Linked DNA regions of Homo sapiens. The protein of the gene in region 3 interacts with the protein of the main gene of each other region in a pairwise test. Each region holds a gene or a part of one and is shown on either strand. Other genes may lie near its edges. The genes, in order: MAPK8IP2, ESRP1, SDC2 and MICOS10-NBL1.

The links.
Region 1: the proteins of SDC2 (region 3) and MAPK8IP2 interact in binary tests that used the Homo sapiens proteins (3 or more experiments, as listed by UniProt).
Region 2: the proteins of SDC2 (region 3) and ESRP1 interact in binary tests that used the Homo sapiens proteins (3 or more experiments, as listed by UniProt).
Region 4: the proteins of SDC2 (region 3) and MICOS10-NBL1 interact in binary tests that used the Homo sapiens proteins (3 or more experiments, as listed by UniProt).

The regions. Positions count from the first base shown.
Region 1 is NC_000022.11:50,596,018-50,603,794, forward strand, and holds the start of MAPK8IP2 (C-Jun-amino-terminal kinase-interacting protein 2), read left to right. Parts: upstream 1-4,775; 5' UTR 4,776-4,801; coding exon 4,802-4,866; intron 4,867-5,771; coding exon 5,772-5,877; intron 5,878-7,205; coding exon 7,206-7,481; intron 7,482-7,608; coding exon 7,609-7,702; intron 7,703-7,777. UniProt on the Homo sapiens protein: The JNK-interacting protein (JIP) group of scaffold proteins selectively mediates JNK signaling by aggregating specific components of the MAPK cascade to form a functional JNK signaling module.
Region 2 is NC_000008.11:94,658,165-94,665,195, reverse strand, and holds part of ESRP1 (epithelial splicing regulatory protein 1), read right to left. Parts: intron 2,925-7,031; coding exon 2,826-2,924; intron 2,696-2,825; coding exon 2,641-2,695; intron 500-2,640; coding exon 389-499; intron 270-388; coding exon 137-269; intron 43-136; coding exon 1-42. UniProt on the Homo sapiens protein: mRNA splicing factor that regulates the formation of epithelial cell-specific isoforms. Specifically regulates the expression of FGFR2-IIIb, an epithelial cell-specific isoform of FGFR2.
Region 3 is NC_000008.11:96,587,788-96,594,818, forward strand, and holds part of SDC2 (syndecan-2 precursor), read left to right. Parts: intron 1-5,692; coding exon 5,693-5,804; intron 5,805-7,031. UniProt on the Homo sapiens protein: Cell surface proteoglycan which regulates dendritic arbor morphogenesis.
Region 4 is NC_000001.11:19,599,979-19,606,978, forward strand, and holds part of MICOS10-NBL1 (neuroblastoma suppressor of tumorigenicity 1 isoform a precursor), read left to right. Parts: intron 1-808; 5' UTR 809-970; coding exon 971-993; intron 994-7,000. UniProt on the Homo sapiens protein: Possible candidate as a tumor suppressor gene of neuroblastoma. May play an important role in preventing cells from entering the final stage (G1/S) of the transformation process.

The DNA.
Region 1 (7,777 bases), on a different chromosome or scaffold from region 3:
CCCCAGCTCACACTCAGCATCCACTGCCAACCTTCTGAATGAACCATCTCAGACCTCGAGCCAGGCTTACCTCCAACTGCAACCAAACCTCAAAAGAGACCCAGGCAAGAACTTCCCATTGGAGTCCTTCCTGAATTTCCACCCTCAAAACAAACAATTGTAAATAACAACTTAATTGTTTTAATCCACTAAATTTGAGGATAATTTGTTACACAGTAATAGTAATTGAAGCACATTTCTTATGGAGTTAAAAAAAAAAAAAAAGGCTTGACACAGTGGCTCACGCCTGTAATCCCAGCACTTTGGGAGGCTGAGGTGAGTGGATTGCTTGAGCTCAGGAGTTTGAGACCAGGCTGAGCAACATGATGAAACCCTGTCTCTACAAAAAATAAAAACATTAGCCAGGTGTGGTGGCACACATCTATAGTCCAACTACTCTGAGGAATGAAGTGGGAGAATTGCTTGAACCTAGGAGGCAGAGGTTACAGTGAGCTGAGATTGCACCACTACATTCCTGCCTGGGTGACAGAGCAAGACCCTGTCTCAAAAAAAAAAAAAAGTGGGTATTGTAGTAATGCAGCAAGAGACCAAGAAAAGTAGGAGGTAGTGATCAGAGACCTGGCTGCATAAAAATGAAGATTCGGGAAATGGTGGCGTTAGGACTTCACCATGGTGAAGGTAGAACTCTTAATTTTCATCTTTATTAAATGTGTCTGTTTGCAGTTTTAACCATTGGCATATTTATTTTGTGTTTGTGATTTCTGTGAAATATGAGTACAATAAATACTGATAGTTTGCATTTGTTTTCTAATCTCTCAGAAAGTTGTCAGAAAATGTTCTCTGACTTTTTAGAATTGCTGTGGTCAGGACTGTGGAAGCTGTTGCGATTCCAACTCTCCCTTCTAAGTCCAATCAATTTTGTGCTTTGTAATGTCTATGCCATTCGTGCACCATAGAGGGAAGAAAGCGTTAAAATGGTCGCGTCACAACATCTTGATTTGTCATTGAAGGAGAAGGAGTCTGGAAGGACGCTGACAACGGGTGGTGGTCAGGAAGGAAAACCCAGTGCCTGTGGCCCAGAGGCTGGAGGAGGAACTTCAAGGAGGGATGTTCAGCTCCCTGTGGACCCCCATTTGTTCATCCATACAATGATGCTCTGAGGAGCACACAAGGAAGGTGCAAATTTGATAAAATGTGCATGATGTAAGGAGCATAAACCCCCTCAGGAAAGAGTTGCTGCCTTTTCACTAATGTATCCCTGAGCTGCACAGAGCAGCCCTGGGGGACTGGGAGGACATGTCCCCGGTGTGAGGAGCAGGGGAAAGGTGAGCCTTAAATGATCACCAACAAACAACAGGGCCTGTGTCTGGGGCTTACACCACGACATGTGGTCCTCGCAGCACCATTGCTCAGAGGAAGAAACCAAGATCTCGAGGAACTGAGTAATTTGCCCACGTTCAACAAGTTGGTGCAAAATGAAGAGTGGCTCCCGTATTTCAGACTTTAAGGCCGACGATCTTCCATCTGTGCTCTGGGGGCAAGATGGGAGGTCCACAGATAAAATTGCGGGCGGTATCCCCCATCTCATGGTCTTTACGCTCATGGGACCTGGGAGTGACCATCTTTTAAGAGGGAGGGAAGGAAGGGGAGAGGCTTGAGGAAGGTTTTGGGGATTAGGATCTAAGATGAAATTTGAGACTATAAGACTTCAGATTGGATGCTGTGGCTCATGCCTGTCATCTCAGCACTCTGGGAGGCCATCACCTGGGCTTGGGCCCAGGAGTTTAAGACCAACCTGGGTAACATAGTGAGACCCTGTTTTTACAAAAACAAACAAAATGCCAGGTATGGTAGTGTGCACCTGTGGTCCTAGCTACTCAGAAGGCTGAGGCAGGGGGATTCCTTGAGCCCAGGAGTTTGAGGCTACAGTGAGCTAGGGACACACCACTGCACTCCAGCCTGGGTGACAGAGTGAGACCCTGTCTCAAAAAAAAAAAAAAAAAAAAAGATTTTAAGCTTGCTGCAATTCCAGATGAAGGTAGATCCTGGAGGCACTTTGTGGGAGAGGTCACTACACTTGAGTATTAAAGACTGTTGACAGATCAGAAATCAAGGAACTGACTGACCAGGGTATTGGATGGGTCATTTATGTGGATGTCCAGATGAACCAGTTTGGTGAAAAGACTCAGGATCAAAAGCCAATCTGGAAAGTTGAGGTCAAACTCTCTGTGAAATCTGGGAAGGGATCTGGATTTTTTGGGAAAGGCAGGGAGTGGTTAATAGGCCCAGACTCCCTCAGAAATGGGGAATGTTCTTAGTGCTTCTAAAAGGGAAAAGACTGTTATGGCAAAGACCTGATGCCCCAGACTGGGTTAGAGACCATAAGCTCTCTCATTCATTCATTCACATGTCTGCTAAGCACCTACTGTTTGCCAGGCACCATGCTTGGAGCCTAGGGCTTCACAGAGAGATGACAGCCTCTCTTCTCTCCAGCCAACCCAAGTCAAGAAGGCAAGCATAAACTAGTAAATGGCTTTTTTTTTTTTTTTGAGATGGGATCTCACTCTGCCCCCCAGGTTGGATGCAGTGGTGTGATCTCAGCTCACTGCAACCTTTGCCTCCTGGGCTCGGCCAATTTTTTTTATTTTTGGTAGAGACATGTTTCCAGGCTGGTTTCAAACTCTTGAGCTCAAGTGACGCACCCACCTTGGCCTCCCAAAGTACTGGGATTACAGGTGTAAGTCACTGTGCCCAGCCAAGTAAATGCCATTCTTAGAAAAATACTGTAATTGGCATAAAATATAAATTGTGATGGGACACCAAAGAGTGCAGGTTCAATCAGGCCCTGGCCACAGGCCTCTCTCTGAGCTGGAATGGTGATACCCCCCTTCCCGACTTGCATGAGCTCCTTCTGCCATGTCGTTTCTGGTGTTTGTCACTCAAGTGCCTTGTCCTTTCCTAAGGAATAATTTTCCAGGCCAGGGGCGGTGGCTCACGCCTGTAATCCCAGCACTTTGGGAGGCCAAGGAGGGCAGATCACCTGAGGTCAGGAGTTTGGGACCAGCCTGGCCAACATGGCAAAAACCCATCTCTACTAAAAACACAAAAATTAGCCGGACATGGTGGTGATTGCCTGTAATCCCAGCTACTCGGGAGGCTGAGGCACGAGAATCGGTTGAACCCGGGAGGTGGAGGTTACAGTGAGCTGAGATCGTGCCACTACACTCCAGCCTGGGCAACAGAGCAAGTTCTGTCTCAAAAAAAAAAAAAAAAAAAAAAAAAAAAAAAAAAAAAAGAATTTTCCGCAGAACTAAGACATAAAGAAATCTTAGGGCACATAACTTTCATCAAGGGGGAAAAGGGATTGCGCTTTTGTTGAAATGCCAGCCTCCTTCTTTAGCCAATATTTAGCCAGGTGCTGTGGTTCACACCTGTAATCCCAGCACTTTGGGAGGCTGAGGCCAGAGGATAGCTGAGCCCAGGAGTTTGAGACCAACCTGGGCAATACAGAGAGAGCCGGTCTCTCTCTCTCTCTTTTTTTTTTTTTGAGACGGAGTCTTGCTCTTGCCAGGCTGGAGTGCAGTGGCGCAATCTCGTCTCACTGCAACCTCCGCTTCCCGGGTTCAAATGATTCTCCTGGCTCAGCCTCCCAAGTCGCCGGGACTACAGGCGCCCGCCACCACGCCCGGCTAATTTTTTTGTATTTTTAGTAAAGACGGGGTTTCACCATGTTGGCCAGGATGGTCTCTGGTCTCGATCTCTTGACGTCGTGATCCACCCGCCTTGGCCTCTCAAAGTGGTGGGATTGCAGGCGTGAGCCACCGCGCCCAGCCACCGGTCTCTATTTTAGAAAGAAAAAAAGTGTCCTGCAGTCTCTCCCTAGTTCTGCGCCCTCAACCCTGATCTCCCGCCTCCTCCCACAGCCACCGTCTCGAGCTCAGCTTCAACCATGGCCCTCCCCACAGGGCTCCATCCCAAGCCAGAGCGGGTCAGTTCCCTACACAGGGCCCAGCAACACGGTGCCCAAGAAAAAGTGTTTCCAGTGGGACGCATGTCGCCTCCGTGGGTGCTAACTTCTCCCAGTGCCCGTCGGTACGTCCGTCCGGCTGTGCAGTCTCTACTGAGTGCTCAAAGTCCACTTTTAGCCCCAGCCAGCATCCTCTGAGTACCTTGTGCTCGATTCTGAATCCAGCCCTGCTCGGCGACCCTCGTGCAGACGTCCCCGTGCAGCCCCGGTCAGCACCCCGTGGGGACAGCTCCGATCAGCACCCGACGGCGGACAGCTCCTCCCGCGCCTCCCGCCTCGCCCGCCACCCCGCTCCGGGCCGCACCCGGGTTAGGGTTCCTGGGGGGATCCTGGGCGCGGCGGCGCAGCTCCCGGGGCCGCCCCGGCCTCTCGCCCAGAGGAAACAGCCCACGGCGAACCCGAGGCCCGCGGACCCCGGCGCTGCCTCCTCGGCCTCCCGCCCCGCGCGGGTCCTCCAGGGCGGGGCCCGACGCCCACCCGCCCGCCCCTTCCCTCCCGCCCCTCCCCGGGAAAAATCCTCATCGCACGCCCGGCCCTTCCCCAACCAGCGCCCGGCAGTGAAGCCGCCGCCTCTCCTCCAACCAGCGTCCCCGGCCGCGTCCCTCCCCCGCCTCCCCCGCCGCCCTCCCCGCGCCGCCGCGGAGTCCGGGCGAGGTGCGCGGGGCGGACGCCGCAGGGCGTGTCACGAGGTGAGCGGGGCGGGCCGAGCGCCGGCGCGGGGCGCGGCGAGGCTCCCGCACCCCCCGCCGCAGTCGCGGGCCTCTCCCGGAGAAGATGGCGGATCGCGCGGAGATGTTTTCTCTCTCCACCTTCCACTCGCTGTCGCCGCCGGGCTGCAGGTACCCCCCTCGGCGCCCGGGCCGGGCGGACCCTCCGCTCCCTGCGCACCCCCCCGACCCCGACCCGGCCCGGACCCCCGTCCCCGCCGCCCCAGCCCCGCCGCCGGCGCGGACCCGGCCCCGGCCCCCTGCGGTCCCTGAGCCTCGGCTCGGGCGCCCCACCCCCACCCCGCTCCCACTCCCTCCATCTTCACCGCGCGTCCCCAGCCTCAGTGACCCCCGGGCCCCGCCGGGATTCTGAGCCGCGCCCGGCCTGGACGGCTGACCTGTCAAGGGTGGAGGCCCTGGGCCGACCCTCTGCGGGGGAGGATGCGGGCGGGATGCGGGCACACCCTCCCGGCGCGGCGTGTCCCGGTGGCCTTGGCCTCTTTCAGTGGACGCCAGACCTGGCCGATAGGGCCCGGCCGGGAGAGAGTGGAAATCAAGCCCGGAGCCCTGCGGGAAGGGACTGGGGTTGGGAGGACGCTGGGCCTCTGGGTTTAGGCCTCACTCCGCCGGAGAGGGGGAGACAAACAGGCCAGACTCTCTTCCCAGAGCAGGAGCGACCCCTCCCCATCTGCCGCTGCCGCGTTGCAGCTCCCCCTCCCCTGCTCTGCAAGACCCTGACCCCAGGGGCCTGGAGCTGCGAGTGGAGGGAGGAGAGGCTGCTGGCTCTCCAGGGAGGCGGGGTGGGAGGGGTGGGGGCAGGGTTGGCTCCTCCGGGCAGGCCTGGCTCAGATGGGGGAGGGGATCCACAGGCGAGCAGAGCTTGGGGGTCAAGATGATGGCAGGATGTGTTCCGAGAGCTGGGGGCTGTGGAAACCACTGGGTGTAGGAGCTGACGCCTCCCTCTGCCCCTCCTCAGGGCCAGTTGCCAGGCAGGGAGTCCAGGGTTGGTGGCTCTCTGACCCTGGTCTCCTTTCCAGGCCTCCCCAGGACATAAGCCTGGAAGAATTTGACGACGAAGATCTGTCTGAGATCACTGATGACTGTGGCCTGGGCCTCAGCTACGACTCAGACCACTGTGAGAAGGTGGGAGAAGAGTTGGGGACACAGATCCAGCTCAAGGGAGGGCCTCATTAGGTTCTTCTTAGCGTTCACTTGGGGTTTTAGGGTGGGTGTGAGCTCAGCCTTGAACCGGGGACTCCTCTGATGGCTCCTCCCCACTTAACCCTTGAGGTTTCCTTGGTATCAACTCTCTCTTATTCCAACACATTGCAGGCCTCCACGCAGGGCCTTCCCCAGCATTCTCCCCGACCCCATCGGTGGCCAGCCCGGGGCAGGGAGGTGCTCCTTTGCTTTGGGTGCCCTCTGTCCTCAGATCACTCCCAGAAAGATCTAATCCCTGGCAGCTGCCATCACAACCTTGTCCCCTCTGCAGCCCTGTGCCCTCGTCTGCAGCTCCCATCTGTCTGTTTCATGTCTCCCCCTGCTGAAATCTTTTCTCGTCCATCTCTTGCTTCTCCTCCTCCCTGTCTCTCCACATTTCTGCTTTCATTTATTGAAGAACATTTCTGAGCAACTGCCATGTGGCAAGTACTGGGGGCTTCTGGGTGCTGGGAGTGGAACAGGACAGCTGCTCTCTGGAGCTGCAACTTAGTAGGGGAGAAAGACTTGTAAGGGACAATGGCTGCCCACGTGTCAAGGGCTGCATTCCAACAGGGACATAAGTTCCACGAGGGGGAAGGGAACCCAATCCACACTGAAGGAATCAGGGAGAATTTCCAGAGGAAATGTCAACCATGCCCTGAGGTTAGCAGAGCCAGGCAGATGGGGTAGGTAGGAGGGAATGGAGGAGAGGAAGTGCCAGCATGGGGAATAACTGTGCCAATGGCCCTGGGGTTGGCGCAAAGTTGGTGAATCCTCAGAGTGCAGAGGCTGTCTCTCCATTTCTGCATCTGTTTGATGTTTACTGAACATCCGCTGAGCCCCAGGTCTTGTTCTTGGGGGCGGGTGCAACAGTGCATAACATGGACATGACCCTGCCCTGGTGGGGCTTGCAACAGACCAAAAACCATGTCCAGTAACTGTAAGTTGTGTTAAAACGCTGCGAAGGGAACACAGTGCTGGTGTCAAATGTGATGGGGTTCTGCAGTTAGATGAGTCTGAAAGTGGGGCTGGGGCTGCTCTGAGAATCCCTGTCATTCAGCTGTAGAGTTTAGGCCCTTCCCAAGAACTGGAGTGATCCCAATGTGTGTTAGGCAGATTTTGAAAACATCGCCCTGTAGACAGAGGGGCAGAGTGAGCTGGAAGGGGCTCTCCTTTGACTGATGCTCCCCGATTTCCCTTCTCCTAGCACCTGGGCCCCTGGGCTACTGCTGCCCTCTGGCCCAGCCCTGCTATCTCCCTCCGTCCTGCAGGACAGCCTCTCCCTGGGGCGCTCGGAGCAGCCGCACCCCATCTGCTCCTTCCAGGATGACTTCCAGGAGTTTGAGATGATCGATGACAATGAAGAGGAGGACGATGAGGACGAGGAAGAGGAGGAGGAGGAGGAGGAGGGAGATGGGGAAGGCCAGGAGGGAGGAGACCCTGGCTCAGAGGCACCTGCCCCCGGGCCCCTTATCCCCTCCCCTTCCGTGGAGGAGCCCCACAAGCACCGGCCCACCACCCTCCGTCTGACCACACTGGGGGCCCAGGTGAGTGCCCGGACCCACAGCTCCCTGGAGCTGAGCCTGGGTTCATAGCACCTGGGCTGCAGCCAGCCCTGCTCACCCCCTGGGAGCTGGCCCTCCTCAGGACCGCCGTCATGTATCTCCACCCCAGGACTCCCTAAACAACAACGGAGGCTTTGACCTGGTGCGTCCGGCCTCCTGGCAGGAGACAGCGCTATGCTCACCCGCCCCGGAGGCCCTCAGAGGTGAGGGGTGGTGGGCCCGCGGGGCGCGGGGAAGCGGGGGAGGAGGGCAGGGAGGATGGACTGGCTGCTGGAAGA
Region 2 (7,031 bases), 1.9 Mb from region 3:
ACCAGCAATTTTAAGGAAATCTTCACCTGTTGCTTTGTAAACCTGAGAAAAGACAGAGAAGTTAGTGTTTCTGAGCCTTCCGTCCTATGTTAATTCTCATTCACGATGTCCAGGGGTTCAGGTTTTGAGGACATACCTCAATATACCGGGTCCCCATGTGATGTTTGTGCCTCTGTAGTGCTAGGTCTCGGTGCTCCTCACTTACAAACCTAACCAGAGCTTCTCCGTTCCTTCGACCCTGAGCATTCAGACAAAGTGCTGCACCTCCCCTTTGAGAATAATAAAACAGACAGCAGGTAGAAAAAAAAATACAGTGAGGAAAAAAAAGATAGAAAATCCATTATCCCTTTGGGATTGTTAAGTAAAATAGATATTTAAGAAAACCAACTTGGCAATATTGAGTCCTTTGAAGAATCTTGCAATATCTTGATCTGAAGACTGCCATGGTAAACCTCGTGCCCTGACTACGGTGTTATCATCAATAAGTTCCATCTTGCTGCTGTGGATGAAGCAAAACTTCAGGTTGCATGATAAATGCTAGCAAGTCAGACACCTATTACCCCCTGCAAGACAACTGCCTAGTTACACAGGATGTATTATTTGGTGTTCAGACAGACTAGCAATACTACTTGATTTTCCTTATAACCTCAAAAATTATGTGGGTACAACTCAAAGTACTGTTTAGGTGGTTCATTATAGAAACATGGCTGCCTGTGCAGGCCCAACACAGCTAGCTCACTCAGCAAACCATCTATCTATCAAAGCTGAGGAAGGCCAGGCGTGGTGGCTTATGTCTGTAATCCCAGCACTTTGGGAGGCTGAGGTAGGTGGATCACCCGAGGTCAGGAGTTTGCGACCAGCCTGGCCAACATGGTAAAACCCCGTCTCTACTAAAATTACAGAAATTAGCCGGGCATGGTGGTGTACGCTTATAATCCCAGTTACTTGGGAGGCCAAGGCAGGAAAATCACTTGAACCTGGGAGGTGGAGGCTGCAGTGAGCTGAGATTGTGCCACTGCACTCCAGCCTGGGCAATAGAGCAAGACTCCCTCTCAAAAAAAAAAAAAAAAAAAAAGCTGAGGAAATGTTTGCTTGGCACCCTCATGTCCTGAAAGTTCCTAGAACCCCAAAAGATAGGTTTGAATTCATTCTCAAATCTAGACAGTATACATGTGGGGTTTAAATCCAGTTTAGCAGCCGAATTTAGGATCAGAATAAAGCTGACAATTAACCCACATGAGGAATGTGTGTGCATGGTAGGAAGTCTGCCATTAAAATATCCCCCAGATCAAACCAGGGAGCCATCCCAGAGAATGTCCATAGAAATGCCTGTGAGTCCCTACACCTTAATGACTCATTTGCAAATCACTTATTATATATTTTGACACCTTTTGATGTCTTATCCCTCCCACGTTCACATTTTCAGTTCTCCTAGGACATTTTCTTAATAAGTCACTTTCTCCACAACTAATCGGCCTCAAAGTCTCTCTCTATGGGCAAAGCTGTCAGAAGTTTCTATTCACTTCAGAGACCAAGCACACACTCAATTCATTAGAGTGATTTACAAACAGGTCTACCTGCGATCACTAACAGACACCACTTCATACTTCTCCCCAGCTATTTCCTTGGCTTTAAAGTAGAAACCTATATAGCCAGGCACAATGGCTCACACCTGTAATCCCAGCACTTTGGGATGTCAAGGTGGGTAGATCACATGAGGCCAGGAGTTTGAGACCAGCCTGGTCAACACGGCAAAACCCCATCTCTACTAAAAATACAAAACTTAGCCAGGCATGATGGTACACATCTGTAATCCCAGCTACTGGGAAGGCTGAGGCACAAGAATCGCTTGAACCCGGGAGGCGGAGGTTGCAGTGAGCAGAGATCACACCGCGATATTCCAGCTGGGCAACAGAGCAAGTGTCTCAAAACTAAAATAAATAAATAAATAAATGTACTTATAGAATGTACGTAAAATTTTATCTCAGTAAAAATTGTGAACTCTATTAAAGCCTACAATTTCTCCTTTGGAAATTTTCTAAATGAAAGATCGGATAGTTTGGGGAGACCAAAATAACAATCACAGATATGAGCATATAATATACTTAAGGTCAGGGTGACTAAAGATGCCAGTAAGTCATTACATTTTATTCCCAATATCAAGCTCTAAGTAATACAACCTTCTTTTACAGATGACCGAACAGCAAGAAAGGATAGCTAAAAGGATTAGTAAAGTTTCTCAAATATAACAAGAATTAAGAGGCACAATATGAACAAAAACAAGTTAAAGGCCGGGCGAGGTGGCTCACGCCTGTAATCCCAGCACTTTGGGAGGCGAGGCGGGCAGATCACGAGGTCAGGAGATTGAGACCATCCTGGCTAATATGGTGAAACCCCATCTCTACTAAAACTACAAAAAAATTAGCCAGGTATGGTAGCGGGAGCCTGTAGTCCCAGCTACTCGGGAGGCTGAGGCAGGAGAATGGCATGAACCCGGGAGGCGGAGCTTGCAGTGAGCTGAGATCGTGCCACTGCACTCCAGCCTGGGCGACAGAGCAAGACTCTGTCTCAAAAACAAACAAACAGACAAAAAAAAAAAACAAGTTAAAAAGCTCAAATAAATAGTACTCAAGCACTTACCAAGTTCCACTTTCAAACTTGTAATTCACTCTCTCTGGATCTGAAAACCTGTGATCTAAAAATGAGAACATAAAAGTCATCATTTTAGTGATTAGGGAGACAAAGTTGTAGGAGGAAATTTGAGTATAGGTAAGAGAAAAATAGTATGAATTCTGGGACTGCACTACTATAAAAGCAATACTTACTATAAGGCTCTGAAATCATTGCTAAAATTATATTCCCCATATCTTCAACTTGAGAGGCTCCATATCGAGAGACTGAACTACTCTTCTCAAAATTTAAATCTGTGAGATTAAATTAAGGAAACACTTTGGAAAGGTAAAATCAGGTTACTTCTAAATCAAAATTAAACCTATACCAAGCCAAGAGGAAGAAGATGGATCTAGCTGAGCTTCCTTTAGAAATCTCAGAATGGCTGCCTCCCATCAGTCAGTCATTCAACTTAGGCTCCAACTGCCCTTTTGGGTAAAAGAGGCAAATCAATCCAGTGCTGAGATATTACCAGGAATACAATTTTTATTTACCCAGTTGTAGCAAATGAATACTGAGCATTTTCATTTCATTTTGAATCAAAGTATGCAACAAAGTTAATTAGAATATTTCATCCTCTGAATCTTTACAGCACACACAAGGCAATGACCATGCCGACTTCATGATATGGTGACATTATCAACACTACAAGGTATTAAATGACTTTTTTTTTGGCCTAATGTTTGAAATGGACACCACAGATTATTGATGTGACATTACTTCCACAATGCCACTTTTGCTTAGAAATTCTATTATAGAACACTTTTGGAGCCCTGTAGGATAGTCCACCTTTGATGACAGCAGATGCTAGTTCTAGACAGCAAATTTTGGAAACAATTCAAGCACTCAGAGCCAACACAGGCCAATGTGCTTCTTTACCAAAAGTATACTCTTTGAAACACATAGCTCAAACTTGGTTTGAGGGTGAAACCAGGAATTCACATGAAGTTTTGCGAATCTCTCTAAAATAAGGATGTATTTCCATCAAATAGAGGCATACCTTGAAAATATGGTAGGCTTGGTTCTACACCACTGCATTAAAGTGAATATCACAATAAAGCAAGTCACACAATTTTTTGTGTTTCCCACTACATATAAAAGTTATGTTTTGACTGTTCTAAGTATTCAATAGCATTATGTCTTTTAAAAAATGTACATGCCTTAATTCAAAAATGCTTTGTTGCAGATGGGCACAGTGACTCACACCTGTAATCCCAGCACTTTGGGATGCCGAGGCGGGAGGATCTCTTGAGACCAGGAGTTCGAGACCAAGCCTGGCCAATATGGTGAAACCCCATCTCTACTAAAAATACCAAAATTAACCAGGCGTGGTGGTGCATGCCTGTAATCTCAGCTACTCAGGAGGCTGAGGCAAGAGAATCGCTTGAACCCGGGAGGTGGAGGTTGTAGTGAGCTGAGAACACCCCACTGCACTCCAGCCTGGGCGAGAGGTAGACTCTGTCTCCAAAAATAAAAAACAACAGAACAACTTTGTTGCTAAAACATGTTAATCATCTGAGCCCTCAGTGAGTCAATCTTTTTGTTGGTGGAGGATCTTACCTAGATGTTGATGGCTACTCATAGATCAGGGTGATGGTTGCTAAACGTTGGGATGGCTGTGGCAATTTCTGAAAATAAGACAACAATGAAGTTTGCCACATCAATTGCCTCTTCCTTTCATCAAAGATTCGGTAGCCTGTGATGCTGTTTGAGGGCACAGGCAGAGTTGACTTACTGTAATTCTTGGTTTTCTTTGGTTTTTTGTTTGTTTGTTTGTTTTGGTTTTTTTTTTTTTTTTTTTTTTTTTTTTTTTTTTGAGATAGTCTCGCTCTGTTGCCCAGGCTGGAATGCAGTGGCACAACCTCAGCTCACTGCAACCTCTACCTCAGCCTCCCGAGCAGGTGGAATTACAGGCACGCGCCACCATACCCAGCTAATTTTTGTATTTTTATAGAGATGGGGTTTCACCATGTTGGCCAGGCTGGTCTCGAACTCCTGACCTCAGCTGATCCACCTGCCTCAGTATCCTAAAGTGCTGGGATTATAGGCGTGAGCCACTGCACCCGACCTCATTTTTGTATTTTTTAGTAGAGATGGGGTTTCACCATGTTGGCCAGGCTGGTCTTGAACTCCTGGCCTCAAATGATCTACCTACCTTGGCCTGCCCAAGGGCTGGGATTACAGCCATGAGTCACCACCCCGGCCAATTTAGCATAATTCTTCAGAACGCTAGGATTTTTAGGACGGTTAATGACCATTAGCTTTAACTTAAAAGTCACCAGCTACATTAGCCTATAACAAGAGAATCAGCTTTTGAAGCAAAGCATTGATTTATCCTCTCTAGCTATGTTAGTCCAGGATGGCATCATCTTCTAAGAGAAGGCTGTTTCTAGTACATTGAAAATCTGCTTAGTGTAGCTGCCTTCATCAGTTAGCTAAATCTTCTGGGTAACTCACTGCAACTTCTCCATAAGCACTTTCTGCTTCACTTTGAATTATGTCGTAGAGCTGACTTATTTCCTTGAATCTCATAAACCAATCTCTGCTAGCTTTTCTTCTGCAGCTTCCTCACTTCTCTCAGCCTTCATAGAATTGAAGAGACTTAAGGCCTTGCTCCAGATTGCGCTTTGGCTTAAGGAAATGTGGTAGCTAGTTTGATCTATCCAAACCACTCACACTCTCTCCATATCATAGCAATAAGTATATTCCATTCAAATTACACTTTCCTCTCTTCTATAAATGACAAGTGGTACCCAGCCTTCTCATCTTTGCTCAGGTAACACCCTATAATGTTTTGCTTTCTTATCATTCATATATTCACTGGAATATTCAAGAAATTTTCCTTTACGCAACTTGACAAATCATTTGGTGCATAAGGCCTGGCTTTTGGCCTCCCTTAGCTTTTGACATGCCTTCCTGACTAAGCTTAATCATGTCTAGCTTTTGATTTAAAGTGAGAGATATGAAACTCTTACTTTCATTTGAAAGGTTAGATGCTGTTGTAGGGTTAATTGGCTTAATTTCAATATTGTGTTTCAGGGAATAGGGAGTCCCAAGGAGAGGGAGAGAGATGGGGTAACCACCAGTTGGAGCAGCCGAACACACACAACACTGACCAATTAAGTTTGCCACCTAATATGGCCCTGCTTTATGGTGCCCCAAAACAATTACACCAGTAACAAAGATCACTGATTACAGATCGCCACAACAGAATAATGAAAAAGTTTGAAAGGTGACAGAGAGACAAGTGAGCAAATGTTGTTGGAAAAATGGTGTCAATAGACTTGCTGAATGCAGAGTTGCTACAAACCTTCCATTTTCTTTTTTTTTAAACAAAACAAAACTGGCCAGACACGGTGGCTCACGCCTGTAATCCCGGCACTTTGGGAGGCCGAGGTGGGAGGATCATTTGAACCCAGGAATTCAAGACCAGCCTGAGATAGCGAGTCCCCATCTCTACAAAATAACAAATTGGCCTGTCATTGCATCTACTCAGGAGGCTGAGGTGGGAGGATTGCTTGAGCCTGGGAGGTCGAAAAGTACACCACTGCACTCCAGCCTGGGTGACAGAGCAAGATGCTGTCTCAAAAATAAAAGATGAAAATTTAAAAAAAGACAAAATACAACAACTGTGAATCACAATAAAGTGAAGCACACTAAAACAAGGTGCACCTGGGTGAGCAGACCCTAATGTGCTCCGCAAAACCTAACATTGACTTTCTAGCCCCTTATAGCAAACGGTTATTGACCTGTGACCTATTACAGAAGAATGGAGATTGCAAAAAGATGGCCAGATACAAAGGATGCCACAGGAATGTTTGTCAATCAATCTCAAAAAAGAATATGGGGAAAATTTAGACTTGAAAGGAGTATAAAAGTATATTCCATTCAAATTAAGCTTTCCTCTCATCTATTAATGGCAGGATTACCTAGCCTTCTCAACAGTGCTCAGGTACCACCCTATAAGGAAAGCACTCTTATCTTAATCCCCTAACCAAATTAGGCCACAAATGACCCACCAAAACTGTTCTAGGCCACAATCGTCAATTTAAGAGTTCATTAGATACTATTCCTAAAATGTTATGCTATTTTCTCGACTGTTGTAACATTTCCTGGGTGTAGGCCCCCATCTTCCTCTGATCTCTTTCCACCTATCAACATCTCTATAGCTTCCAAGGATCTGCTGACTTAAATGGTGGCATTTACTGGACACCATTTTGTGCCAACCACTCCCTATTTCTTCCAATTCTCATAATAACCCTGACAGATAAATTACAGCAAAACCAAACAGTTGTAGAACTAAGATTTAGTGAGGCTAGGCATGGTGGCTCACGCCTGTAATCCCAGCACTTTGGGAGGCC
Region 3 (7,031 bases):
TCAACACAGCTCTTTATTGTAGTTCTTCCCCAGTCCTTTATTATTATTATGTGTGAATCACAGGAAAAGGGAGGGACGAGGTAGGCAGCATGTTGAACATGCTCAGTGACATACATTTTGAGGTCCCAAGTCCCTACTTTTGGAGCTGTATGATTTCAGGCAACAATCTCCTGGGTAGGCCCTGGAGATTGTTGAGATGATTAGATGAGCCAATGCTTAATAAAATGCTAAGCACAAAATGCCTGGCACGTAATAAACACCTAACAGCCACAGCTAATCCTTTTGAACCCGAGGCTGAATGGTCTGATGTCACTCATGTTGTGGGGCATGACAGTGCAGCAGAAAGAGCCCACACTTAGGTGTCAAGAGCTTCGGGCTCCAGTTTGGCCACCAGCTAGACCAGAGGACTTTTGAGCTACTTTGCTACTCTGGTGTTCTGTTTCTTCATTTGTGAAATAAATCAGTGATCTTGGTGACTATAGTGTCCAGTCAAGCTCTAAAATTGTATGTTCCTTTGGGCTAGACCTAAGCCAGAATTGACAAGTTTAGCTTAAGGACAGGTATATCATCTCTGAGTGACTGTGTGGGTGACATAAATTTTTAGCTAATTATTATTTCCTTTACAATGTGTGTTGCTAGTAATAAAATAGTTTACTGAGTCACCTATGGAAAGATAAGCTACAGTTATAGCCTTTTTGGCACTTTGTAATCATCATAAAAGTTAATATACATTTGAGTCATAATTGGAGTTGGACTGCCTTTACCGTAAAACAGGAGGCATCATCTAGATGTTTGTTGTCTGTGATGTGATACAGAAATGTATTATTAGGCCACATGGATATTTTATTTTTATGTTCAAAGGCTAATTTTCTGAAAGTTGGGTCTGGGAGTCTGAGTTATCCATAATTAAGTTTTCTACCTTCTGCTTTCGTTGTTAACCTGAGTTAAAACCATAAAGTAAATTCGACATTTACTAATTTGAGCTTTAATTATTTTGACCACTGTGTTGGTTGCACTGGTTGAAAGCATGTGCAGGACCTCTGCTTAGTAGGTAAGGCGTTGTGTTTTTTAAACAAGGCTTTGAATTTCTAAATAACAGATTTCCACACTGGCAGTTTGAAACATGGTATTTGTTCAGTGTAGGTTTTACCTACATGAGAAAAATCAAACAAATAGATTTGTTCAGTTGCTATCCTACAAATTGTCTTCGCTGAGAAAATGGACAGGTTTGTGATGTTTCTGACTACATCAAGACTCTACTACACTTGATCTTTTGTGTATTGAATTAACACTTGTTCTTGTCATTTTTATTACAACTACCGTATAAGTTTGGGCTGAATCATTTTATCAAACTCTAAATTTTTATCATCAAATGTGGAAGGCCTAAATCACCATCGCTGTCCTCAATTTTCCAACCTAAAGGTGTTTATTTCCTCTTAGGGGTATAATACGAAGGAAAGTAGTGTCACCAGATCTCTTCTTGGTGTTTTTGTATTGGTGCCTGGGGTTTGGGTAGAGGAAGCAGCAGCAGCAGCTGAGACTAGAACTGCAGCTGAGGCCACTTGGTAAAGAACTTTTTTCCAGGCTAAGGACTTTTGTTTTGTTTGTTTGTTTGTTTGTTTGTTTGTTGTTTGTTTTTTGAGACAGAGTCTCCTTGCTCTGTCTCCCAGGCTGGAGTACAGTGGCGCAGTCTTGGCTCACTGCAGCCTCTGCCTCCCAGGTTCAAGTGATTCTCCTGCCTCAGCCTTGCGAGTAGCTGGGATTACAGGCACCTGCCACCACACCCGCCTAATTTTTGTAATTTTTGGTAAAGGAGTTTCACCATGTTGGCCAGGCTGGTCTCAAACTCCTGACCTCAGGTGATCCGCCCGCCTTGGCCTCCCAAAGTGCTGGGATTACAGGCGTGAGCCACTGTGCTAGGCCCAACTAAGGAGTTTTTATGTCATCCTCTATGTGGCAGGGAGCCAATAAAGGCAGGAGAGTGATACGATGATGTTTGAGTTCAAGAACAGTCCCTCTGCATCGAATGGCTTCAAAGACACGGACGTGGGCAGTGACAAGGTCAGGAGGCCTTAGTCCAGGTCCAGGCCCAACATGATGAGTTAGCCAGAGCCGGGGGGCCAGAGGCAAAGGGGTGGAGATAGGAGACAAGTATGTATCTTGCCTTCCTTCTAGGCATTGTGGGTTTACACAACTGAATCAGATGCGCATTCTCCTCTGGGAATTTCATCTATGGAGGCAGTGTAGTGCTTCAGTTTCCCTGGCTGAATGTGGCATTACGCAGAACCCTCTATCTGTCTGCCGCACATTTTCCTCTTGGTCGTACCTTGTTGCTTTCCACAGCCTTCCTTTGCTCTCCTGTATTCACATCTTGCATCAGCCAAAAGGGAAAGGTCTGAAAGACCAGCTTTGTTTTTCTCCCAGCTTGTACTCTGGACCCTGTTAGCCAACAGTATTGGCACTGCCTCACAGCGATGGTCAGTCCCAAATTAAACAGCCTCGTTATGACACCCTACAGCCAGGCTGCAGCTCTGGACTTGTGCTTCTGCACGTTTCCTTCCAGTTGCTTTCGTCCAGCGTCTCGGTCCCATTGAGTAAGGGAGTGTGTGCAGAGTATGTCCCGAGGTTTTCTCCTCAGTCAAGCAGACTACATTTCGCCAGGTGTAAAATCGGTAGTTTCGAATTCACCCCTTTTCATGGCCTTGAGGAGATGCTTGTCTCCTTGTCCCAAGGGAATATTGGTGCATAAATCATTTCCCGTCCTAGGCATGTTCATTCCAGAAACCTTTCAGAACAGAGTGTGGAGTCTTCATAAAAGGAATTTGTCATGAGCGCAGGGGTTTTTTTTTATTTTTTATTTTTTAAAGGGGAAGGCAATAGAGGTATTCATTATCTGCTACAGAGTGAAAAGGGCCCTGCTTTATGTTAAATTGGACTTCATGGAAAGATATTGGTAATTTCTCCTATGTTCTTTGTGCTCCTGAAATCAGAGTGGGAGAGAACTTTGATTTCAAAATTATTTTCACCACCCTGGATCACAGAGAAACACACTTTTGGCTGCCTTTAAACACATTAAACATCTGGTCAGCCCAGAGACCACCCGGGAGCCCTGTAGACCCCAAGTAACTGAGTGGCTGAGGGTAAGCCAGCTTCTCTAGACACACCCTGACTTCCACCCCAAGTCTTGTTGAAATACAGGCCTGACGGCTGTCCCAGGAAGTCAGTTGGCTTGTCAGACTGCCAGTGTGGTTGAACGGTGAGGTGGCTAGAATTCTCTGGGAGGCATTTTTGGCCCATCTGCCTGGTAGCATGACAGATGTGTTAGTCCAGACAACTGGGTCATCGAATGAATTGAAATTCAATTTACACATAGGGATTAAGTATCTCAGTATTACCCTTGCCACATCAAACTTCATTGACAGAGCCAAGAGGAAAATGAAAGTCATTCAATGTTAAGAAAAGGGAAACAAGATTCTAACATGGAAAGGGAATATTTTGCTTACTTTTAAGACTGTAGGTTACTTAAATAGATGCAATGCAAGCTATAGGAGGTTTGGGGCAGATGGTCTCCTAGGCTTAAAATGGAGAGATTTTAAACTACGAGGATCCTGGAGGTCTTGTGACATGTAACTCTGAAACCTCAGTCCAAGGCCAATTTGGTTTAAGTAATCTCAGTCAAATATTTATTTTGTGGCCATGCATTTTGAGAGGGACAGAGAACACAGGTCATTCAAAACATGCCTTCAATGAGTTGTACTCTGCTGAGGGGCAAGAAAAATGCACATGAAACAATGAAAAGTAACAGTGAGGGTTTATGTCTTAAACTGTTCATATGCTACAAAATCCTAAAATAGTACTTTATAATTAGGAGGTGTATAAGGAGTGGAGAAGTCACAGCCTGTTTCATAGTAGCCAGGATTTGAGAGAAGAAACCAGGAGGTCCTCCAGGGGAAGTAAATGGGACAAAGTTTAAGACAAGCAGGACGGAGAATGGCTTTTTCATGGGAGCACGAATGGTGGTTCAACCCAAGCGGTGTTTACTGAGCATCTACTATATGCCAGGCACTGTGACTGGGGGAGGGAAGCCTTGCCTTTAAAGGAGCTGAGAGCCTAAGAGGAGGCAGTTGATGATAGAGCTGTAGAACACAGGGCTCCTGACACAGTTCACAAGCTTTGGGAATTACAATCTGGAATGGTGATAGCCTTGGAAACCAGTGAAACAGGGTGGCGTCAGATTGCAGAGTTAAGCTCTGACCATTCTACTAGAAAAGTTGCAGCACACTCTTGGCTCAGGGTGGTCCAGGCCACTGGAACACCAGTCCCTAAGGTTTCAGTTCTCAGAATCCACCAGTGTGATAGCTCAAACAAAATAGATTCCCATGCTTTGCTTTCAGTTGGCACTGAGGCCTGGTGGAGAATGTGGGCTCAGGTTTAAAGTGCTTTAGCCTTGCTAGCCAGCTGCTGAAACCTGAGAAAATAAAGTGGTACTGTTACAGAGGGTTGGACCTGTCCTCTTAGGAAGGTTCCAATCACAGCGACTGCTGGAAGAGAAAATTTTATTTTAAGATTAAATCTAATGAAAGCCAGTGTAGTAAGGGAAACATTATTTTATAATTTCTGTTAAGAGCAAACATTCTATATGATTTTTAAAAATAGAGCAATAATGAGTGTTGCCTGTTTCCAAACAAGCGTTGTTTAAAAGCTGCCTGTCTGCTTTATTATTTTTTTCCTGGGCTTTTGCGAGATAATGGTAGTAAAATATCAATTTACTAAAACCATTTTTTAAAGTCTTATACCTCTACTCTGTCTCCAGTTCATGCAAGTTCTTCTTTTGGCAGGATTAGGTTGAATTTTAATACTAAACTCTTACTGAAGAGTTAAGAAGCTGTGGAACTGGTATACTTAGTGACTGATCCCTCTCCATATTAAGCGTGTGATTTGCTATTACCAGTTGCCAGTAATAGAAAAAGAATGTGCTCGTGTGGGTTTATCTGTATTTGTCATTAAGGCTTTGCTAAGCCAATGAGCCCTAGAAGCAGGCGTGCAGTGGGCTTTCTCCCTGTCAGGTGAGCCTCACGGGCGCTGCTCCTCTCCGGGCACTGTGGCTGGCCTCAGCACAGGTCTGGGCTGGGGTAGAAAGGCCTGCATGGCCTGAGGACCCAGGTGACTGGGGATCTCTCATCTGTAGCGGTAAAGTTCTGAGTATTGCCAGGCCTGCAAGCACTGGTAGGATTTGATGGATCCCTGGGTGATTATTTAGCCTAAGCTAAGCCGTAATACCTTTGCATACATCCCCAAGAAAGTCCTAAGTGTTTTGTTCCCTTTCCAGTAAGGGAGTGACAAAGAGAATGCCCAAGATGGCTTATAACTAGCATTGGGATGGCTGAAAGTCAGGTAAGTTTAGTGGAATGCAACAAAATAAGCCCAAGATAGGAGTTTAGATCTCCGAAATGTTTTCATTCTACTGGTTTAAGCTGTGTAGGCTTCCCTTGCAGGTTATTAGTCCGTGCTCACCTCTCAAATTGCTGTTAAGTTGTCAGGGTGCCTGAGGAAGACTGTGGCCAGAGATGTGGATTCAGACTACTGTGGGAGTGGGAGGGGTAGTCACTGCAGTATGTACCTGAACAATCAGATATACAAGTGTGTTTCTTAATCTCTCAACATCCTGACTCCCTTGTCTTTCCTTTCTCAGAGAGCAGAGCTGACATCTGATAAAGACATGTACCTTGACAACAGCTCCATTGAAGAAGCTTCAGGAGTGTATCCTATTGATGACGATGACTACGCTTCTGCGTCTGGCTCGGGTAAGGTGGCTGCTTCTAAACACTGGACCTCATTCTCCAGGCATGCACGCACACACATTTTACTGTGCTTACTTCAAGGAGACAGGCAGGATGCACAGTGGTTAAGGGCACCGTCTTTGGAATCAAAGGGCCTGGGTGCTAATTCTAGCTCTCTCTGCCACTTACGCTGTGAGATCTTGAGAATTTATTTGCTGAGCCTCAGTTTCCTCCTTTATAAAATGGAAAGTAACAATAGTCCTTACCATAGAGTTGTTGTGAGGATTAAAAGGGAGTTGACACATCTAAAGCTCTTAGATTTGGGGGCTTGGCACATAGTGCTCTGTCAACATTAGCTTTTAATCGTATTAAGACTTTCAGAGTGATGTCATGGAAACCACCCTTCAAGAAATCCCTCAAACACTGGTTTCATAAAACCACCTACCCTATGTTAAAAATTGTAGATGAGACCAAGAAGTTAATACGTTTTTATTCCTAGGGTATTGTAGGAGGAAAATGCAGCAGCCAAGTAAAATGATTATGTAGTGACATGATCAGATTCCTTAGTATATTATTCCTTAATAGTTATCTGTTACCACTCTAAGGCTACATAATAAACCACCCCAAAACTTGGTGGCTTAAAGTAACAGTCATTCATTTAACTTATTATTCTGTAGGTTGGTGATGTAGGCTGGGCTGGCTGGGCTCCCTCACATGTCAGTGGTCAGCTGCCGGTTGAGTGTACAGCTTTAGGTTGGGTTTGCAGCTTTCGGGTACTCATATCCCTGGGGCAGCTGAGCAGACTTGGGTTCTGTTCGTGTGGTCTCTCATTCTCCAGTAGGCAAGCTATTTTTTCACAGTAACAGCAAGTAGAAGTGTGCAAAGCCTCTTGCAGCCAGGCCTTAGAACTGGGCACAGCATCACTTTTACTACATTTTACTGGTTGAAGCAAGTCAGAAGGCCAGAACAGACTCCACCTCTTAGTGAAAGGATTCATAAAGTCACATTTACAGAGGATATGTATACACGGAGGATTAAGGGATTCTGGTCACATTTACAATCTACCATAATTGATGAATATTTCCCCTGTTCTCAGAATGGCCCCTGTATGAGTTCATTCTCACCCTGCTAACAACACAGGGACTGGGTAATTTATAAAAGAAAAGAGGTTTAGTTGACTCACAGTTCAGCATGCCTGGGGAGGTCTCAGGAAACTTACAGTCATGGCAGAAGGGGAAACAAACATGTACT
Region 4 (7,000 bases), on a different chromosome or scaffold from region 3:
ATATTTATTGAGCTGTGGGTCAGTCAGCGGGCAAATAGAGAAGCATAAGACATTTCACTGCCCTCAACAGGGAATTGACGTAATATATTAGGTTGCCATTAAAAAAAAAATTGGCAAAGACCACAGTTACTTTTGCACCAACCTAGTAAATGAAATTTTAGTATGATTGTTCTGGCAGAATGAATTTGGAGCAGAGGAAACTAGCAGTACTGTGATTGTGAGGTGATAAAAGTCTGACCTGTTAGACTGGAATAAATGGGCATATTTGAGAAATTTCAAACTTTTTCCCATCTGTGAAATAAGGGAGTTGTCCTGTTGGTGATGGGCTGAGAGAGAGGGCGGAAGAGAGAAGAAGTAAGGGAGGCTTTAGTCTGAGTCGTCTTTGAAACCATGAAGGTGTACGCTCTTCTATAGTGAGCGTGTTGCTTCCTGTTTTCTCTGGGTAGTGAGGTTCTGGAACTCTTTAAACCTCATTGGCTGCTTGCTTTTCTGGTATTTCAAAATGGAGATGGAGACTCAGGGAATGGCAGCCTGTCATAAGATAGGTAAGAGGTTTGGTGGAAGACATAGACAGGAAGAAAAGGCCAATGCAGGCTTTCAGCTCCATCTTGATAATTTCACTGTGGGTTTTTGTTGTTTTTAAGACAAGGTCTCACTCTGTCACCCAGTCTGGAGTGCAGTGGTGCAATCACAGCTCACCACAGCCTTGACCTCCAGAGCTCAGGTGATCCTCCCACCTCAGCCTCCTGAGTAGCTGGGACTGTGGGTACGCACCACCATACCCATCTAACTTTTGTATTTTTTGTAGAGATGGGGTTTCACCATGTTGCCCAGGCTGGTCTTGAACTCAGGGTCCAAACGATCCACCTACCTTGGCCTCCCAACGTGCCAGGATTACAGGCATGAGCCACCACACCTGGTCCATCTTGATAATTTCATACTCTGGCTTGGCAAAGACTGAAGGGAAGCCATGGTGAATGCACAGCAACTTCTGTGAGTCCTTCTCTGTTTGGTTGTCTTATACCTAAAGTGTTTTGCTTCCAGGGTTCACCAGGGTTATTTTCCCACCTGTTTGCTGTACGATGACTATTATAATCACTCGTGTTTAGCATAGGTGTTGTATAGCTGAGTTAAATAGCTTTCTTAAGCCTGTACTTTAGGCAGTGGTCCTTTAAAAAAGTAATCTTCAAGGATCTTTTCACCCTGAGGCTTGAATAATATCTTAATAGAAAATTATCATATGATTTTGTCCTGTAGGAAGAGGCATTTATTTATAAATACCCTTGCCCCCATTACTATCTTAAGAAAAGCAGTTCTAGGCCAGGCACAGTGGCTCATGCCTATAATCCCAGCACTTTGGGAGTCTAAGGTGGGAGGATCACTTGAGCCCAAGAGGTCGAGACCAGCCTGGGCAACATAGTTAGACCCATTGCAGCAAAAAATATATATATTAGCTGGGTGTGGTGGCATACGCCTATGGTACCAGCTACTTGGGAGGCTGAGGTGGGAGGATCTCTTGAGCCTAGAGGTTGAGGCTGCAGTGTGCTGTGATCGCACCACTGCACTCCAGCCCAGACGACAGAGCAAGACCCTTTCTCAAAAAAAAAAAAAAAGAAAAGAAAAAGGAAAAAAAAGAAAAGCAGTTATATTTTACCTGCTTATTCGGGTTTTAAAACCTCTATTTATTTTGTATCAAATAGTGTGGAAGAATAGGTGATTTCTAGTATGGTTTGAACTGATAAATTAAGCCCATGGATCTAAAAACAATAGCAAAAATTAAAACCCATCTTTCTCTTGGAAGGGAGCTCTGAGTGATGGGCACAGTGGGCCCTTACTTGTTACACATCCACTTCTCTTTTTTCCACTTTTTTAGCCCTTGTTGCTTTCTTTTTCTTTATTCCTGTCACATTTTTACACTTCTTTTTGACCTCTATTCTTATTCCTGCCACTGCCACTACATACATTGCCTAGTTCATCTATAAAGTTTGACATTGATAGGTCTTTTTTCCTTAGTAACCCTGTTAGCATTTAAGAAGTTCCTAGGTATTCTATTTATTCTTTATCACATCATTTTTCTTAATAGCATGTTTCACCATTTGAAATTTGTAATTGGTTTCTTTACTTGATTGTTTCTTCTCCCTGGAATGTAAACTTCATAAGAACCAGAGGCTGTTGTGTTCACTGTTGATCCCCTAACGCCTGGTTTAGAGGAGGCGTACAATAATTATTGTTAAATGAATGACATGTATTGCTGAGAATTTTGTAGACCGTTCTCTGCCCATATTTGCTTCTCAGAGTGTGTTTATTAACTGAATGAATTAGTATTTAACTGAAAAACTCCAAGTAAAGTAGATTTCTGCCCGTTCACATGTTTGATCATGTATCCTTGTGTTCTTGGGACTTATACCAACTTTTAATTTCATCTGGGAATGTAAATTAACTGTCAGTAGATCTTAATAATAAAGTAGTATTAAAAATGTTTGGGAATAGTCAACTGAGAAACATAAACCAGAGAGCACTTTTGTATTTAAACAAGTAGAGGGATGATGTTGGTTTAAGTGGTAGTGCCAAAGCCTTATTGCAGGAAATTAAAAAGGAGTGAAGAATATTACATTTTATGAATGGCATGTTCCGTTAGTTTTATGTGAATGCGTCATTAATGGGTTTTGCTTATTTTATGGATTTATTTTTAAGTTTTATCAGATTTATTAAATGCTCTGGCTTTCTTTATCCACTCAGTTCAAGGGCTGTGGTGTTTATTTTCCTTGTATGTATGGGTAATCTGTCTTAGTACCCATGAGCATGAATAAGTCACACATTTCTTATTAGTGAGGCTAGAAGGCATAGTGTCTTATCAACCTAGGAGACTTTAAATCGTTCTGGTCTCCACAGAGCCGATGTCCTCAGCTTGGGCTTGTCACCCTGGACTGGATGAGAGGTTATGTCTGTTTTCAATTTCCCAAGGAAAATAAGATTTTAGGAGATGAGAAAAGTCATAGACTTCCAGGGGCTGCTTCCCTGTGGTTTGAGAATTTATGAGCCCTACAGGTGTGGGTCACAGAAGCACTAGGCCGGGCTCGCTGGCTCACACCTGTAATCCCAGCACTTTGGGAGGCCGAGTTAGGCAGATCCCCTGAGGTCAGGAGTTCGAGACCAGCCTGGACAACATGGCGAAACCCCATCTCTACTAAAAATACAAAAAATTAGCCGGGCATGGTGGTGCATGCCTGTAATCTCAGCTACTGGGAGGCTGAGGCAGGAGAATAGCTTGAACCCGGGAGGTAGAGGTTGCAGTGAGCCAATATCCTGCCATTGCACCCCAGCTTGGGCAACAAGATTGAAACTCCATCTCAAAACAAACAAACAAACAAACAGAAGCAGAAACACTGTCATTGCCTCAGAATTCTGTTACAACTTACTCTTCTTGAATGCCGAAGGCTTGCACCAGCAGGCTGTGGACCTTTTGACCAAGTTGATGTTGCTTGTGTGACAGTGGCCTGTCCTCAGACTATGGATTTGCCAGAGGACGCTTTGAGGAAAATCTGATTCTGGCACTTCCTGGATTCATACGGAGGTCCTGGGAATCCCTAGTGTGACTTGGATAGCTTTAAAATTGGCTGTGTCCCTTTTCTCTTTGTTTTGCTCCAATGTGAGACCAGAGTAAGGAATATCTAGTCTTACTAATCCATGTATTGGTTTAGAATTCTAGTTTATTCTAATAGAAGTCAGGTTGTATGGCAACTCTGTATTTTAGCATTTGAAGAAATTCATTGAATGGTTAGCTGAAGAGTGACATGGTTGAATTTTTGATTTCAGAAAAATCATTGATGAGAATGAATCAGAGGGCTGGCTGGGATGAAGGCAGGGAGGAGATGTCATGGTGGAGGGAGAGGTCCCAAAGCTGGAGAGTTTCCTGGAAAAGACTGTCCTGGCAAGCCAGGTGTGTCAAGCACAACAGTGATTTCCGTTAGTAGCAAGAAAAAAGGCAAGCCATGGACATTTACAAGGAGCCCCTAGAATGTATTCAATTCAGTGAACTGTAGTGGCATACACAGTCATTTTGTTTTTCTTTTCCTCATTTTTTTCATTCAAAATAAATGTACCAGTAAATACCTCCCAGCCTCAGTTTTCTTATCTATAAAATGATAGTACTTGCCCCAGAGGGTAGTTGCAAGTGAGGATAAAATGAGATAATCTCTAGAGCAGTTAGGACGTTGCCTGTACTTACTAAATATTATTAACTGGAGGCTGAGTGTGGTGGCTCATGCCTATAGTCCCAACACTTTGGGAGGCTGAGGTGGGTGGATCGCTTGAGGCCAGGAGTTTGAGACCAGCCTGGCCAACAATGGTGAAACCCAGTCTCTACTAGACATACAAAAAATTAGCCAGGTGTGGTGGTACGCACCTGTAGTCCCAGCTACTCGAGAAGCTGAGGCATGAGAATCGCTGGAACCCGGGAGTAGCAAGTTGCAGTGAGCTAAGATGCAGCCACTGCACTCCAGCCTGGGCAACAGAGTGAGACTTGGTCTCAAATAAATAAATAAAAACTGGAGGCTGTCGCTGAAGAGTAGAGGTAAAAGAGTTAAAATGATTAACACATTTACCCTGATCTTGGCTATTGTGGGTCGTAGGTGGGTCTTATTGTGGGTCGTGGCTATTGTAGGTCTGATAATCAATATTCATGTTTATATATGTAATAGTAATCATTAATGTGTACTTCTTGAAACAATTTAGTACCAGGTATTGTGGTAAGCCTTGGCAGGGGGTGGCACACAGGTGAATAGGCACTGGCCCTACCCTCGAGGGGCTTACTGCCTTGAGGAATGTGAAAAGGATGAGGGACATTTGACCCCCATTTTGGAAAATATGCAGATATTTAATAGGTGGACCAGGTGGGGGAGTGTGTTTCACTCCTTGAAGGTGTCCCAAAGGAGAGGGATACTTTGGTTCCTTCTGGGAATGATGAGAATGACCATCACTTATTGAGCACTTAACCGCATGCCAGGCACGGTGCTGAGCATGTTATATTTTACATCATTATCTCATATCCTTGTAAGATATTTCTCCATTTTTACAATGGAAGCTCATGGTGGCAGAATCCCTCCTTTAGGATCACAGGCTACAGCTGCAAGGGTAGGAAGGTGAACCCCATTCTTGTAGCTATCACATGTTAATGCAGGAGATTTTATCCTTTGGGGTTAAAGGATTTATGTGGGGAGGGACAAAAGATGAGGCAGGAAAGGTGGAAGGGTGTAGGAAGTTGTGGAGATTTTTTAAACTACTTTGTTGAGATATATTTCATGGCATACATTTTCCTATTTAAAGTGTACAATTTTAGTTTTTTCACCAAATTGTGCAATTATCACAATCTAATTTTAGAATATTTTTAGCTTCCCCCAAAAGAAACACTGGATGCAGCTGCTCCTATTCCCAAACTCTCACCCCAACCTTAGCCCCAGGCAACCACCAATTTACTTTTTGTCTCTGTGGAGTCTCCTATGCTGGACATTTTACATAAAGAGTTATATAATATGTAGTCTTTTGTATCGGCTTCTTTGACTTAGGTAGTGTTTTCAGTATTCATCCATGCTGTTGCATTTATCTGTTCATCATTCTTTTTTGTTACCAAATAATGTTGTGTGGTGTATTTGTACTACATCTTGTTTATCCATTTGTCAGTTGGTGGACATTTAGTTTGTTTACGCTTTTAAATTTTATGAATAATGCTGCTGTGATCAAGTGTACACATTTTTGTTTTGTTTTGAGATGGGGTCTGTTTTGCCCAGGCTGGTCTCAAATTCCTGGGCTCAAGTGATCCTCCTGCCTCAGCCTCCTGAGTAGCTTGGATTACAGGTGCATGCCATGGTGCTCAGCCCCCCAGTTTTTATGTGGACATGTTTTCATCTCTCTTGGATATATACCTAGGAGTGGAATTGCTTGGTTGTGTGGCAATTCTATGTTTAGCATTCGAAGAAATTCATTGAATGGTAAGCTGAAAAGTGACGTGGTTGAATTTCTGATTTCAGAAAGATCACTGATGTGATGAGAATGAATAACTCTCTGGAGTGCTAGGATGTGGGGGCAGGGAGCTAGCTTAGTATATTATTGCAAAATCTTGCCAAAGATGAGCTGATCAAATGAGAGGAAGCATGAACTAAGAGGGGAGCAGCAGGAGTGGAAAAGAGAGATATAATGATGCTAGTACAGAGTTTATATTTACAGAACTTGAAATGCAGGCTCAGGAGTGGGAGGAGTCAGGTGGTGCCAAGCCTACATAAATGAGCATGGTGTTGCTTTTGACAAATAGGAGAGGCAGAGAGGGGAATAACATTTTGTAGTTTCTTAATTTCTAGTATGTCTTGAGATAGGTCTCTAATTATATGCAGCTCAGTTAACAGATGAAAGTTATTGGTTTATCATGCATTCATCTTTATGAAAAGAAAGGATTCGGCCTTGCTTCTTCCTTGTTACGAAAGTATGGCCAGGGCTGGGCACGGTGGCTCACACCTGTAATCCCAGCGCTTTGGGAGGCTGAGGAGGGTGGGTCACCTGAGGTCAGGAGTTTGAGACCAGCCTGGCCAATATGGTGAAACCCCATCTCTACTAAAAATATAAAAATTGGCTGAGTGTGGTGGCGCATGCCTGTAATCCCAGCTACTCAGGAGGCTGAGGCAGGAGAATCACTTGAACCTGGGAAGGTGAGGTTGCAGTGAGCCAAGATCAGGCCATTGCACTCCAACCTGGGCGACAGAACAAGAAGGCTCTGTCTCCAAAAAAAAAAAGAAAGAAAAAAAGTAGGACAGTAAAAGACTTAGAAGCTGACTTGCCTTAGAATTAAAGTTAACCAGCAGATTTTGTGTATTCATTCAATAATCAAGTCTAGTTAAATTGTTTGAAGCCATTTTAATGTTTAAAAAAATACTAAAAGAGGCCATTGAATAGTCATGGAAAAAGAAAGCAAATTATTGTTTTTCTTTAAGTATCAGTTCATCTGATAGAT